Linked DNA regions of Homo sapiens: region 2 is linked to region 1. A link means that fine-mapping ties the variant in region 1 to the expression of a gene that starts in the linked region. Tissue or cell type: esophagus muscle. Region 1 holds a variant in brackets; the other region holds the start of a gene. All regions are shown on one strand. Distances are between the middles of the regions.

Region 1 (6,527 bases):
CCATATGATCCTTATTTCAGCTTTAAGTCAACTCTTTTTCACTCCTTGTCCATTTCATCTAGAAAAAATTTCATCTCTATCTCTACATACCTCCTTTTTTTTTATTACGATGCTAACTAATAAAAGTCCAGATCCTGGCCTTAAAAATGTAAGTCTTCACAATTAACTAGTCTCAAGAAGAGATGAATGATCTGCAGGAAGAAAAAACAGTTCTATCTCATTAAACTAGCTCAAAGTATGTGATTTCATATGATGTTAAATTGGAAACTTTCACACATTCTTGTTCTCTTATGCTATATGATGACCCATGTGAGTCACTTTAATTTATAACTGTCAGTAACTTGTCCTGTTGTCAATGCAAGCGTTTCCTTTGAAGTGTGAATTGAACAAAGAAACCTTGTAAGATTCCCAATGCTTTAGAAACTGTAACCATTTCCTGTTAGGATAAAACCTCTGAAAGAAATCTATAATTCTAATTCCTTGTCTTAATAATTTGCTGTTCTGGAAATAATACTGTAGTTGAAATTTCTGTATTCCCAAATAGTAAAAATAACAGATATTCCTAAGCAAGAGGCTTAGGAAGAGTCTGCTGAAGATGTTGCGTGTCTGAGTCAGCTGAACTATGACCAGCAGTGGCCTCACCCTACCTGGTTCTCCCACACTCACCTGGGCACCAGGCTCTTGTCATCTTTCGCTTCACTGTCCAAGGCTCTTTTCCTTGTTCCAACGAGGAGATCACATCGGGCTTAGAAACACAAAGTCCTAGACACATAAAAAACAACCTGGTCATACTGTGTGGCTGTCCAGACTGAGATGCAGTCCCCTTGGCTTGACGCAAGAGGGCAGTGCAGGTCTGGGTGATAAAGGCATGAAAGGCTTCTTAGTCCAGGACGTGGGTAGGGTGAGGGGTGGGAAAAGGGGTGGGAGCCCTTACCCAGCGATGCCAGGTTCCTGTAGTTCTCCAACATCACCTTCCTGTACAAGTTCCTCTGAATGGGGTTCAGCCACTCCCACTCCTCTTGGGAGAAATCTACAGCCACATCCCCAAATGTCACCAAGCCCTGAAATGATATAACCATGTTCTTGCTCAACCAGTGCTCATGCCCCCACATGACTGGGGGTTTGTTATAGAAAGAAATGTGTCCCCTGACAAAACTCCTACATTAAACTCCTAATCCCCAGTACTTTTGAATGTGACTGTATTTAGAGACAGGGCCTACAAAGAGGTAATTAGGGTTAAATGAGGTCATATGGGTGGGGCCCTAACCCAATCTGTCTGGTGTCCTTATTAAAACAGGAAGAGATACCACGGTGTGCAGGCACAGGGAAAAGACCACGTGAGGACACAGAGAGAAGACGGCCGTCTGCAAGCCAAGGAGAGAGGCCTCAGGTGAAACCAAACCTGCAGGCACCTTGATCTTGGACTTCCAGCCTCCAGAAGCTTGAGAAAAGAAATTTCTGTTGTTTAAGACACCCATTCTGTGGTATTTGTTCTGGCAGCCCTAACAAACTAATATAGGGATCTAAAGATTCCTTGTCTTCATTTTGAGTAAGAGACTATAAACTCAGAACTGTGGAGATCTAGTTAGGTATTGTACAGCTAGCCTCATTCTGTCTTAAACTCCAGGTAAAAGAGAAAAATATGGAGACAGCCCCTGACTTTGGAGAACTTGCAGTTTTGTGGAGGTGAAAGGAGGCAGCCACAAGAAAAACCCCTGACATCAATTCAAAACTATAAATAACAAAGACTAACTTGTTCTATGCACAACAGGTACTACAGCACTGTCCAACATGGGGACATGTGAGTGGCCTGAAGCAGCACAAGAACTGGGCAATAAACTTGAGATGAACCTCAAAGCATCAATATTATTCATGACTAAACTGGGTTCTAAGAATTTCTATTTTTACTCTCAGTGTTCAGTAGAGGTCATTAAAAAAAAATCTAGCAATTTTTTTTTCTAAAATGAATATGTAATAAGAATGAAAAACAAAAAGCACTATAATGTTTTTAATTAATGAAATGCCTTTACGAACCAAGGTGCCATCTTGGAGAAGCTAGGCATTATGAGGAGCTATCAGGAGCACATTTGCTAACAGCTTGGCATGAGCAGGATTTTCTTGACCAACTGGCAAGATGGGGCTGCTCAGCTCCTGCTGGCAGATTTTTATGGAGCATAGTTTTACAAATTCAGCCTACAACTCTGATACGTTCCAATGTATTTTAAACATCTATTCAGTTGCAACTCTAATCCCAGGAACCTGTGGCTAACAGAAGGCAGATTTAACTGACTAGCAGCTGTGGGATTTTCAAAGTCTAAACTGAAATGAACATGCGAAACAGTTGGACTACCCCAAAAGCTGAATTACAATTCCAGCACTCACCAGCTCTGAAACCTCACTTGGTTACCTAACGCCTCTGTGCCTCAGTTCCCCAGCTATAAAATGGAAAAGGCAACAATACCAACCTTGTAGATTATGTTTTGGATTAAATGAGGCAACACATACACAGCACTTAGAACGTGCAAGGCACAATGGAAGCATGCAGTGAACATGACTTGTAATGATGCTGACTGTCATAACTCTCATCCATAGGGATGCTGCCTCTGCTTGTCACCCTTGACCTATATATTTTCAGGCAGTCCTCACCCAGTCCCCATTTGTGTGTTCTAGATAGAAAAGGCCCCATACTATGAAATGACTACTGTCCTTCTGCATGAAGCCTGGTGAACCTGATAATGTAGCCTTCAAGTTCCCTTACTGAGCCTTGAGCTCCCTTCAAAGTATCCAAGCCAACCCTGTCTTGGGAAACTCACCTAGATAATGCCCTGAACCCCAATAAAGGCTCCAGCCCACAGGTCCCTCCCTCTCTCTTGGTCCCCACCCTTTGGCTGGGCATGTGTGTCCTCAATGTCTCCAAGCCCTTCCAGTAAGCCCTGCAAGGTGTGCTGGCCACTGTTCTCTGGAATCTGTGAGTAATAAACAATCTTTTTGCCATTCTGCTCTAAGTGTCCCTCACCATGCTGCATCTGACTACACAAAACCTAATTTAAATACCTCACTTAACAAACCACAACACCAACCAAGAGCTGAACCTTTTAAAGATTCACATTATTCTACTAGAAACAAAAGTCCCTTTGAGGTTTGATATCTGCTGAATAATATACAATCACTTGTTCTTTAACCTGCTACCAAACTTTAAGGACATTTGTAACTGAATTGTGTAAAAATAGGTCAAAAGGGTTTTGTAAGTGATATCCCAATTTGAGTGAATATCAACTGCAGAGGGAGTTGAATCAGTCAACTGCAGAGCTACACTCTTGATGGTAAACTCATCATGGAGAAGTCTCCTAAGCTGGGGACTGAAAGGCCCCCTGCAGTGTAAACCATGAGGTAATACTTGCAGGAAACAGCCAAGAACTGCTTAATGTCCTTGAGCAAAAGACACACTAATATGGCTACCTGAGGAAGCTAGTCTAAAACAAATGCTGGTCAGCTCTCAGCAATAATTTTGCAAGTTGAAGCATCTTGGCATAAAAGAAGAGGAACTTATTTGCTTGCCAAGAAGAATCAACCCTAGTTTCCCAGGTTGATCATGCTATGCATTAGTGATCTGCTTTTGTACCAGTGGTT[TG/G]TTAAATGCCTTCAATGTAATCACGTAGAGGGACCCAACGTTAGCAATATACATATATCCTCCTAAGACATTTTCTGTTTATTCGGACAGCTCTTTATGTATAGAATCAATGACTTTTGTTTTAAAAATGTCTTTTACTGTAAATAACAGCAATAACAATAGCTGAAAGCACTTACAACACTTCAGACGCAATTCTATATACTTATATATTAGCTTATTTAATCCTCACAACGATCCTAATAGTCAGTACTATTACTATTCCCATTTTACAGATGAGAAAATATTGAGCTGTAATGTGCCCAGGATCACAGACAGTCAGCTGTAGAGCTGGGTTTTGAACCCAGGAGTCTGACTCCACAGTCCATGCTCTTAACCTCCACTTCAGGTGTCAGCAAAGTTTTTCTGTAAAGAGCCAGAAAGTAAATATTTTAGGCTTTGTGGGCCAAATAGCCTTGGCCGCAACTCTTCAATTTTGCCACTGTAGCACAAAAGCAGTCATAGATAATACATAAACAAACAAGTATGTTGTGCTACAATGAAATTTTTTTTATGGACACCAAAATGTGACTTTCATTTAATTTTCATGTATTCTTCTTCTTTTGATTTTTTTCAACCACTGAAAAATGTAGAACTCATTTGTAGCTGGTGGGCCACACAAAAGGAGGTGGTGGTGGGCTGGATTTGGCCTATAGGCCATAATTTGCCCAGTTCGGTCCTATATTAAACACTTTTTTTGAAGTACGCCATCTAAGTGTCTTGCCTGTAAATTTCTAAAACCGTCATGATGACATGAGGATGCTGCCAGCTAACACTAGTAAGTCCTTACTATGTGCCAGGTACCTCAATCCAGGCACTATACACATCTTAACTTAATCCTTACAAGAACTGCTTGAGGCAGGTCCAATTATTTTCCTCATTTTACAGATGAAGAAAATGTGGTCACTTGAGTTGCCTGAAGGTTACGCAATGATTAGATGCTAGGGCTAGCATGTGAACCTAGTCCATGACCTTTGACCACTTTGCCATTCTACTTCTATTAAAAGGTTCCACTTTGATAATAGCAGTAATACTTAGTATCCATTCACCCTGACAGTGAAACAAGTTCCAGTAGAAAACATGTTTTCAGATAAAAATAAAATGAACTTTCCCTAACTGATGTCTGGATCAACCTACTTAATTTAGGTGGAGACAAAACATTGTCAAATGTGCAGGTCCTGTTCTTATTCCTGTTGCTGCAACATAAATATGCAGACTTCAAAATGGGTTTCACATTTTTACACTATACCACAGAGAAAACATTATACAGGCACAGAATCTACTCCTGATATAGGCATCTGATGTAAGTTAACTCATCTTAATATACATATGAACTGGGTATGGTGGCACACGCCTATAGGCCCAGCCACTCAGAAGGCTGAGGCAGGAGAATTCCTTGAGCCCAGGAGTTTGAGGCTGTAGTACACCATAACTGTGCCTGAAAATAGCCAATATACTCCAGTCTGGGCAAAACAGTGAGACTCCCATCTCTTAAAAAAATTATATATACATATATATATAATATACATATATTAATATATATATAAAATATACATATATAATATATTCTATATAATATATAAACACACGCACACACACAAAGATAGAGACATTAAAAGAATACCAACAAAAAATAAAAGCAACTTTATACTTACAGAAAAATCTTTCTGTTGAAATTTCATAGAAAAGAATGAATATGAAGTACTTTATAGAAAAAATACACTAAAAAGATTTGTTTAAATTCAATTCAGTTAATTTTTAAAACATACAAATAAACATTTATTTGGTAATAACTATTATTCCTGATGAAGTGTACATTTTTTTCAAAACATGAATTCTAGCTTTTGAGGCACCACTGCTGTTCTATCCAAAAATAATTTTAGAAGTATTCCGATTTCACATAAGCTTAGGAAACCTTAATCCATGAGGCAAGAAAAACTTCTAGGAATGTATTCATACAAAATAATCAGGGGCTGGGCATGGTGGCTCACACCTACAATTCCAGCTCCTTTGGAAGCCAAGGTGGGAGGATTGCTTGAGGCCCGGAGTTTGAGGCTGCAATTATCTATGACTGTGCCACTGTACTCCAGCCTAGGTGACAGAGTGAGACCCTGTCTCTAAAAGCAAAAAAACAAAATAAAAAAATCAGGGACGAAGCACATTTTCAGGTATAAAAATGACTATTCTAACACTATACTAAATATCAAAACACTGGCCACAAGAGAACTTTAAGACTATATTCAAACATTCATCCACCAAATATTTTCTGTATCAGACATTAGGCAAAACTGCCCCAAATCCTTGCCTATGAAGTAAGGAAATGAGACAAGAGAAACTGAGATAAATTAAGTAAAATACATTTGACCTTCGAACAACATGGATCTGGGCTGCAAGGGTCCACCTATATGCAAATTTTTTCAACCAAATGCAGACTGAAAATACAATTATTGTCTGGGCGCGGGGAATCACACCTCTAATCGCAGCAATTTGGTAGCCCAAGGCGGGCGGTTGCCTGAGGCCAGGAGTTCGAGACCAGCCTGGGAAACATGGCAAAACCCCATCTCTACAAAAAATACAAAAATTAGCTGGGCATGGTGGCACATGCCTGTAATTCCAGCTACTTCGGAGGCTGAGATGGGAGCACTGCTTGAGCCTGGGGAGGTCAAGGCTGCAGTGAGCCGTGATGGCACCACTGCACTCCAGCCTGGGTGACAGAGTGAGACCTTGTCTCAAAAAAGATTATTTGTGGTATGGAAAACCTGTGTCCACTGAGGGCTGACTTCTCATATCTGCAGGCTCCACATGGCTGATGAATAAGTGCAAATTTTGGTATACGTGGGATTTCTGTATATAGTATGTT
Region 2 (6,527 bases), 22 kb before region 1:
ACTGAGACTTAGGAACCAGGCATGGAAATTTCCTCTGAGGATTGTACTTCTGCTTTGTCAGATGCCTATGAAAAGACTGAGCACAAGGGAAGGGCTCAGACTGGGTCATTTCCTGAATGAAAAATAAACAATGAGCAGGAAGGAGAGAAGGAACCTCTGAGAGGGCACTGGGCTGTGTGAGTCTATCCCTCACTCACAACCCCATCACATATCAGAAAGGGAAGAAACAGGAAACAGGCCTCAGGGTGGAACTCTTAAGCACAATATTTTCAGAAGAAAACAAGTATTACCAAATCCAGAAAAGCAAAACTATTTTAGTGGGGAGAGGGGGAATACTAACTCACCAGGGACATGGCTTTACAAAGTTTAATTCCTGCCACCTCTACCTCTTCCTGGCTCTTCATTTGGAGAAGAGCTTTACTCTGGGATTGTAGAGCTGGGGAGAAAAAGAAGTAGTGAGAAACCAAGTAGCACTAATAATCAAAGTCTGAAAATGCTTTCTTCCCTTCAGCTTCTTCTGTCCTCACTCACAGTCCTCACTCCAACTCCCCCACCCCACAGTCCTGATGCTCTTTGGGAGACTTGAAATATATAGCTGGGGTTCCCCTCTGCTCTGGGTTTTCAGGATGAGCATAATATCTCTTGACCCCCTCTCCCCATCAGCCACCAATTCATTAACAACAGATTTATTAATACTAGCCTGTGTGTGTGTACATTTTTTTTTTCTAAGACAGGGACTCACTCTGTTGCCCAGGTTGGAGTACAGTGACGTGATCATAGCTCACTGTATCTTCAAACTCTGGGCTCAAGGGATCCTCCTGCTTAGGCCTCCTAAGTAGCTAAGATTACAGGCATGTGCCACCATGCCCAGCTAGTTTTTTTACTTTTGATAGAGATGGGGGTCTCACTATATTGCCCAATTGCTCACTATATTGCTTGAGGCCAGGAGGTGTCAACCTCCTGGAGTTAGGTATCTGGTCAACCTCCTGGCCTCAAGCAATCCTCCTGCCTTGGCTTCCCACAGTGCTGGGATTACAAGCATGAGCCACCATGTCTGTGCTGCATATATTAATACTGTCTTTAAATCTCCAAAATCTTCAAACAGAATCGGGTATATTGTCACCATTTTACACAAGAAAGCTCTGGGAAGTCAAGTCTTTTCCACAAGTCACACAAATTTGTAAATAACCTAGTCACCAACCTAGGTCTGGCTGACTCTATCACAGAAGTTATTTGCTCATATACCAGAAAATAACAGAAAATAAGTCCTCTGTGCAGTTGGCCAGGATTTGTGAACATTCTATAAGACAAATTCCATGGAGAATTCCATCTTTTCCAGAGAGAGGCATTCCTTTCGTTACAACAGAGTCCATGTGACTTGCAGACAACCAAATGAAAAAATCCTCATGAGGCCTAGGATCTCATTTTGTTTTGTGACAAACTACAGTGTTGAAGCAGTCCCTTGACTCCACTGAGCCATGTTTCCTTAATTAGGAAGGAAGAGGATAAAGTATCTGAATTAATTCTAGTTTCTTTCATCTAAATTCCACTGCCTTCTCAAAGGATTATCATAATGATGATAAAAATGAACACATTACATGGCAGGGACTATACCAAGTGCTTTACATGTATGAGGTCATTTAATCCTTATGACAGTACTGTGAGGTATATAATATTACCATCTCCATTTTACCTAAGAACTTAGAGTCATAAACTTTTTAAGAAAAAAACCCCAAACCTGCTCAGTGGAGGTTCTGGCATATGAACTATTTAGTTATTTAACCCTTTCAGAGTCAGTTTCTTTAATTGTCAAAAGTGGCTAAGAAACCTACCTGAGGCAGTAGTTGAGGAAACTACATGACAGCCAGTGACTCTGGAGTCAGCCTGTTCTGGATCTGAATCCCGGTTCTTCCACTTGCTAGTGATTACTTATCCTCTCTATGCTTCTGTGTCTTCATCTGTAAAAAAGAGGTAAGTAGTTCCTACTTCATAATGTTGTGAAGTTTGGTGCTGATACTCCCAAAAGGTCTTAGAACTGTGTCTGGCACATAATAAACACTCATTAAACATTAGCTATTACTATAGCATGCAGGAAACTAAACAAGCACAGAACAATATGGCTAAAAATAGCCCTTCCTCCCCCTTTCTCTTTATTGGAGTGGGAGGCCAGAGGGGAGGGAGAGAAGCCCAAGGAATGGGGATATCTTCCGTTATTGACTAGAACGTGATTAAGCCATAGAAAGGCTGGAATGCCTCGGCATTTCTGGGTGAAGCTGTGAATCTCGCCTTCTTCCCAAATCCTACAGTGATAGATGGGACAAGGCTCTGACGGGTAAAAATCTAAATGCTGAGCTATTCCTTCAACAGCAGCAGAGTACCCAGAAGTAATGCTATAATGGGTAATATTACGGGTAGTGTTCTCTCCCATGGGCCCTTAGTGATATACCAAGGACCTGAGTCAGGTTATCTGGTTAGGTGTCTCTGGCCAAGTCAAGGTCCCTCCCTAACTAAACCCAGCTCCACTCTGACCCAAGGTGACCCTCCAAATCTTTCGACTTCCAGGTCCACTAGCCTTAGAAACGGGGGACATCCTCCTCCAGCACCTGAACCCCGAAAGACAGCACCCAAAACCTCAATGTCCACTCCGGCAGCCACATCCGTCATCTGTCACTCTTACCTGTGTACTCAGTCCCCATGGTCTTCGCTCCTCGCCGTCCTGTGGACATGGAGCCCTGTCCTGGGCTCTGCCCCTTCCAGATAGGGCTGACAGGAAATGCTTCAGCCGAGGCTGCCCCGCCCGGGCAACTTCCCCGGGCTCTAGGACTTTGCCCACACTGGGCTCTACGCAGTCGATACAGGGGAGAACGGGGTAAGCCTCCTCCGGCCGGGTTTCCTGCTCTTGGCCACTTAAAGTGCTTCACTCATTCCAACACACACCGCCTTCCGCACGCCGCCGGGCCATGCACGCAGGCGCAGATTCGCGGCCACGCACCGGACAGTCACACACCGGGCCGCCATCCCCGCGCGCGCTCGCCCCTCCTCAGCACAGCACCGCACGCTCACCACGTATGGGCACTCACAGCCACCAGGCCACACGCGCACGCTCACGCCCGCCGCCCACACAGGAACCAGGACACCGCCCCCGCCGCGCCCCAGTCCAGCCTCGGCCGCTGCCCCGCCCAGACCTCCCTTCTCCTCAGCAACCGGCGGGACGTGCACTCGCCCGGCTTTGGGTCCTTTCCGGAAGTGGGCGTGTCCTCCGCTGCAATAGCCCCTGGGAAGTGTAGTCCGGAACGGAGGCGGCGTTCAGAAATAGGGCGCTGGCTTTGCCAGGAGCGGCTCCTCTCCAAGCCTGGCGGTCACTGCCCTGTGTCCCCTTTTGGGCCTCTCCTGGTCCTCCTGGTTGGATTAGGAGGCCTCTCAGCCCGGAGTCTGGGTCGCCGAAGTACAGGCCCCTTCACTGAAGCGACCCACGGCGCAGGGGTTTCTGGAAGCCATCGCCAGGCTCCGAGTGTTCAGATGCAGCTGCCAGGCTCAGGACGCAGAGAACTGGCTTCCAGCTCGCAGGAGCGCCTGTCCGTGGTGGGTAGGGTCGCAGGCGTGGGGTGTGCAGGAGCAGTGGGACAGCACTGAAACGCAGTCGGTAAGGCGTAGCGGCTACCCTCTGGAGAGGAAAACCATGACAGGGCGGGGCTTGGGGCGCGGGCGGGGCCTACGCGATAGAAAAGTGAGGAGATTGGGATTTGTCTGCTTTGCACACTTGTGACTTTCTGATGGTGCGCGTGTGGAACCTGTTTTATTTCATGCCTACTAGTTACTGCTCTCTGATATACGGTACGCCCCTCACCTCCCCCCACCCCATTTTATCTCTCCCTGCTGGAAGGAGGGTTCCAAGAAGGCACACAGCTTCCGTCCTGTTCAGGGTTATATTCTCAGTGACTAAAACAGCACATAGTAGGTGCTTAGTTTTTTATTTTTATTTTATTTTTTAGGAAATCACGAAATCTAGCATTGCCAGTCTCACCATGACACAACATGTTATAGGCTGAATATGTCCTCCCAAAATTACTATGGTGAAACCCTAACCCCTAGTGTGATGACGTTAGGAGGTGGGACTTTGGGGAGGTAACTGGTTTTAGATTAGGTCATAAGGGTGATACCCTTATGATGGGGTCAGTGCACTTATTAAAAAAGAGGAAGGAGGGGTCTCCATGTTTACACAACCACCAAGCAAAGGCCATGTGAGGACACAGCAGGATGTAACCCATTTGCAAGCCAACGGGGCCCTCACCAAGAACTGAATGTGCCAGCACTTTAACTTCCCAGCCTCCAGAATTGTGAAAAATAAAGTCTCTTAGTCAAGTCACTTAGTCTATGATATTTTGTTATAGCAGCCCCAGCTGACCAAGATACAGCATCATAGATACTGGCTCACCAGAAACTAACTCACCCTCCCAGTCACACTCAATCACCCAAGGCCACACAGTGACATCTAGACTGGACTCTCCTGGATCCAATTTATGTCAGACATCATAAACAACATAATAAAGCCAAGTCTAGCTGTGAAGATACTTTAACTATGAAACAGCAAATATCATCTTAGAGCTTGTAACGTTTGTGGTTATTTGAGTTGGATGAAAATGATAATATTCTCATTTTAGCTCTGGCATATAAAGAGCTCGGAAGCCTTCATTCCCATCTTCACAACAACAAAATCATTCAACAAACTGAAAATCAACTTTTCTTAGATCCATCAGAGAACTGAAGATAGAAAGGTAACTGACACCCCAAAATCCCGAGAAAGAAAAATACATAAAATTACAGCCAAGATTAGCTTACTTGAAGCAGAAGCCACTGGAGTTATAAACTGGTAAAAACTTTTATTTTTTATAATTTTGATGAATTGCTGGAGGCTTAGTGTGGGCTAACTTGTGAGTTAAAAACTCCTAGGGGCCCAATCTTAGATGGGCCCCCACACTTTCGTGAATTTTACCTCCAGAAACCCTATCAAATTCTCTCAGTGAAGAATGGGGAAAAATCTCAGGTTTTTGGGCAAGGGGAGGAGAAAAGTAAGCACCACATTTTCCATAATAAACACCTGCACTCCAAGAAAAACTACTTACTAGAGTCTTGTTGGACCTTGGGGAGAGGCAATTGGCCAGCTCCAGTCCCTCTATAGCCTGTCTGTCTCAGTAAGGCAGGATTTTTGAAAGGCTAAGAAGTGCTTCTGAAGATCACAGTCCAAGGCCTCAAGCCCACTAGAAAAATAGTATTTAATAATAAGATTATAGAATGCTTCCCTCCCCACTGTACCTCACTGCCACACTAATGGGGCTCTGGTCAATAACAGTAGATTACAACAGAGAAAACTGCAAGGCACAGACTCTATTTAAGAAGGAGTTCTTAGGGAAGCCCACAGAAGGAGAAGCATCTTGGAAAAAGTAGACAACATGCAAGAACAGATGGGTAATGTAAGCAGAGAGATGCAAACTGTAAGAAGGAATCAAAAGGAAATCCTAGCAATTGAAAACCATTGTAACAGACATGAAGATTACCTTTAGTGAGCCCCTCAGACTAAGACACTCTGAGAAATGAATGGGTGAGCTTGAAGATATGTTAATAGAAATTTCCCAAACTGAAATACAAAGAGGAAAAAAAAAGAATGAAAAAAGAAAAAGAACAGAATATCCAAGAACCATGGGACAATTACAGAAGGTGAAATATATGCGTAACTGGAATACCAGGAGGGGAAGAGAGAAAGGAGAGAAAATATTTGAATAATGACTGAGAATTTTCTAAAATTAATGACAGGACACCAGGCCAGTGTGGTGGCTCATGCCTGTGATACATACCAGCACTTTGGGGGGCCAAAGTGGGAGGATTGCTTGAGCCCAGGAGATTGAGACCAGCCTGGGCAACATAGTGAGACCCCATCTTTAAAAAAATACAAAAATTAGCCGGGTGTGGTGCTGTGTAATTGTAGTCCCAACTACTCGAGAAGCTGAGGTGGGAGGATTGCTTGAGCAAGCCATTATCCTGCCACTGCACTCCCTCCTGGGCAACAAAGCAAGACCTTGTCTCTAAAAGCAAGAAAACAAACACCAAACCACAGATCTAGGAAGATCAGAGAACACAAAGCATTATCACAAGTCACCTTTTGACATTATCACCAGCACTATTCAGTCCTTTTAATTTCTTTCAATCCTTTTTGTTTCAGATTAAATAATTTCTATCTATATTCAACTTCATTAACTATTCTGCCACCTCAAATTTCCTGTTAAACCTATCCAGTGGATTTTTACTTTCAAACATTGTATTTCTTAGTTTTAGAATTCCCATTTTCAAACTGATTTACTCATTTGCTGAAATTCCCATCTGCTCATCCATTAATAGCATTTTCCTTTATGTCATTCAGAATAATTATAATAGGGGCTTTATCATTCTTGTTTGCTAATACCAGTGTTTAAGGATTTGTATTGCTTTCTTCTCTTGAATGTGGCTTATGTTTTCACATATCTAATAATTCT

What was found. PIP is the estimated chance that this variant, and not a neighbour inherited with it, causes the effect.
Region 2: ZNF470 starts here. The variant in region 1 is fine-mapped to the expression of ZNF470 in esophagus muscle (GTEx, PIP above 0.99).

The regions. Positions count from the first base shown.
Region 1 is chr19:56,542,042-56,548,568 of GRCh38, reverse strand. ZFP28 (ZFP28 zinc finger protein) reads right to left here. Exons shown (of 8, transcript NM_020828.2): 3 at 935-1,061; 4 at 667-762. ZNF470-DT (ZNF470 divergent transcript) reads left to right here. Exons shown (of 2, transcript XM_047439806.1): 2 at 1,298-2,994. Among named protein-coding and RNA genes, the nearest start is that of ZFP28, 6.4 kb to the right of the region's middle. RefSeq lists an enhancer at 86-1,285. The variant TG/G (reference allele first, on the strand shown) is at 3,631.
Region 2 is chr19:56,564,189-56,570,715 of GRCh38, reverse strand. ZNF470 (zinc finger protein 470) reads right to left here and starts at 3,248. Exons shown (of 6, transcript NM_001001668.4): 1 at 2,678-3,248; 2 at 1,833-1,958; 3 at 345-436. The coding sequence starts at 404. ZNF470-DT (ZNF470 divergent transcript) reads left to right here and starts at 2,695. Exons shown (of 2, transcript XM_047439806.1): 1 at 2,695-3,643. The coding sequence starts at 2,695. The coding sequence ends at 3,633. RefSeq lists enhancers at 2,809-2,918, 3,299-3,508, 3,519-3,568.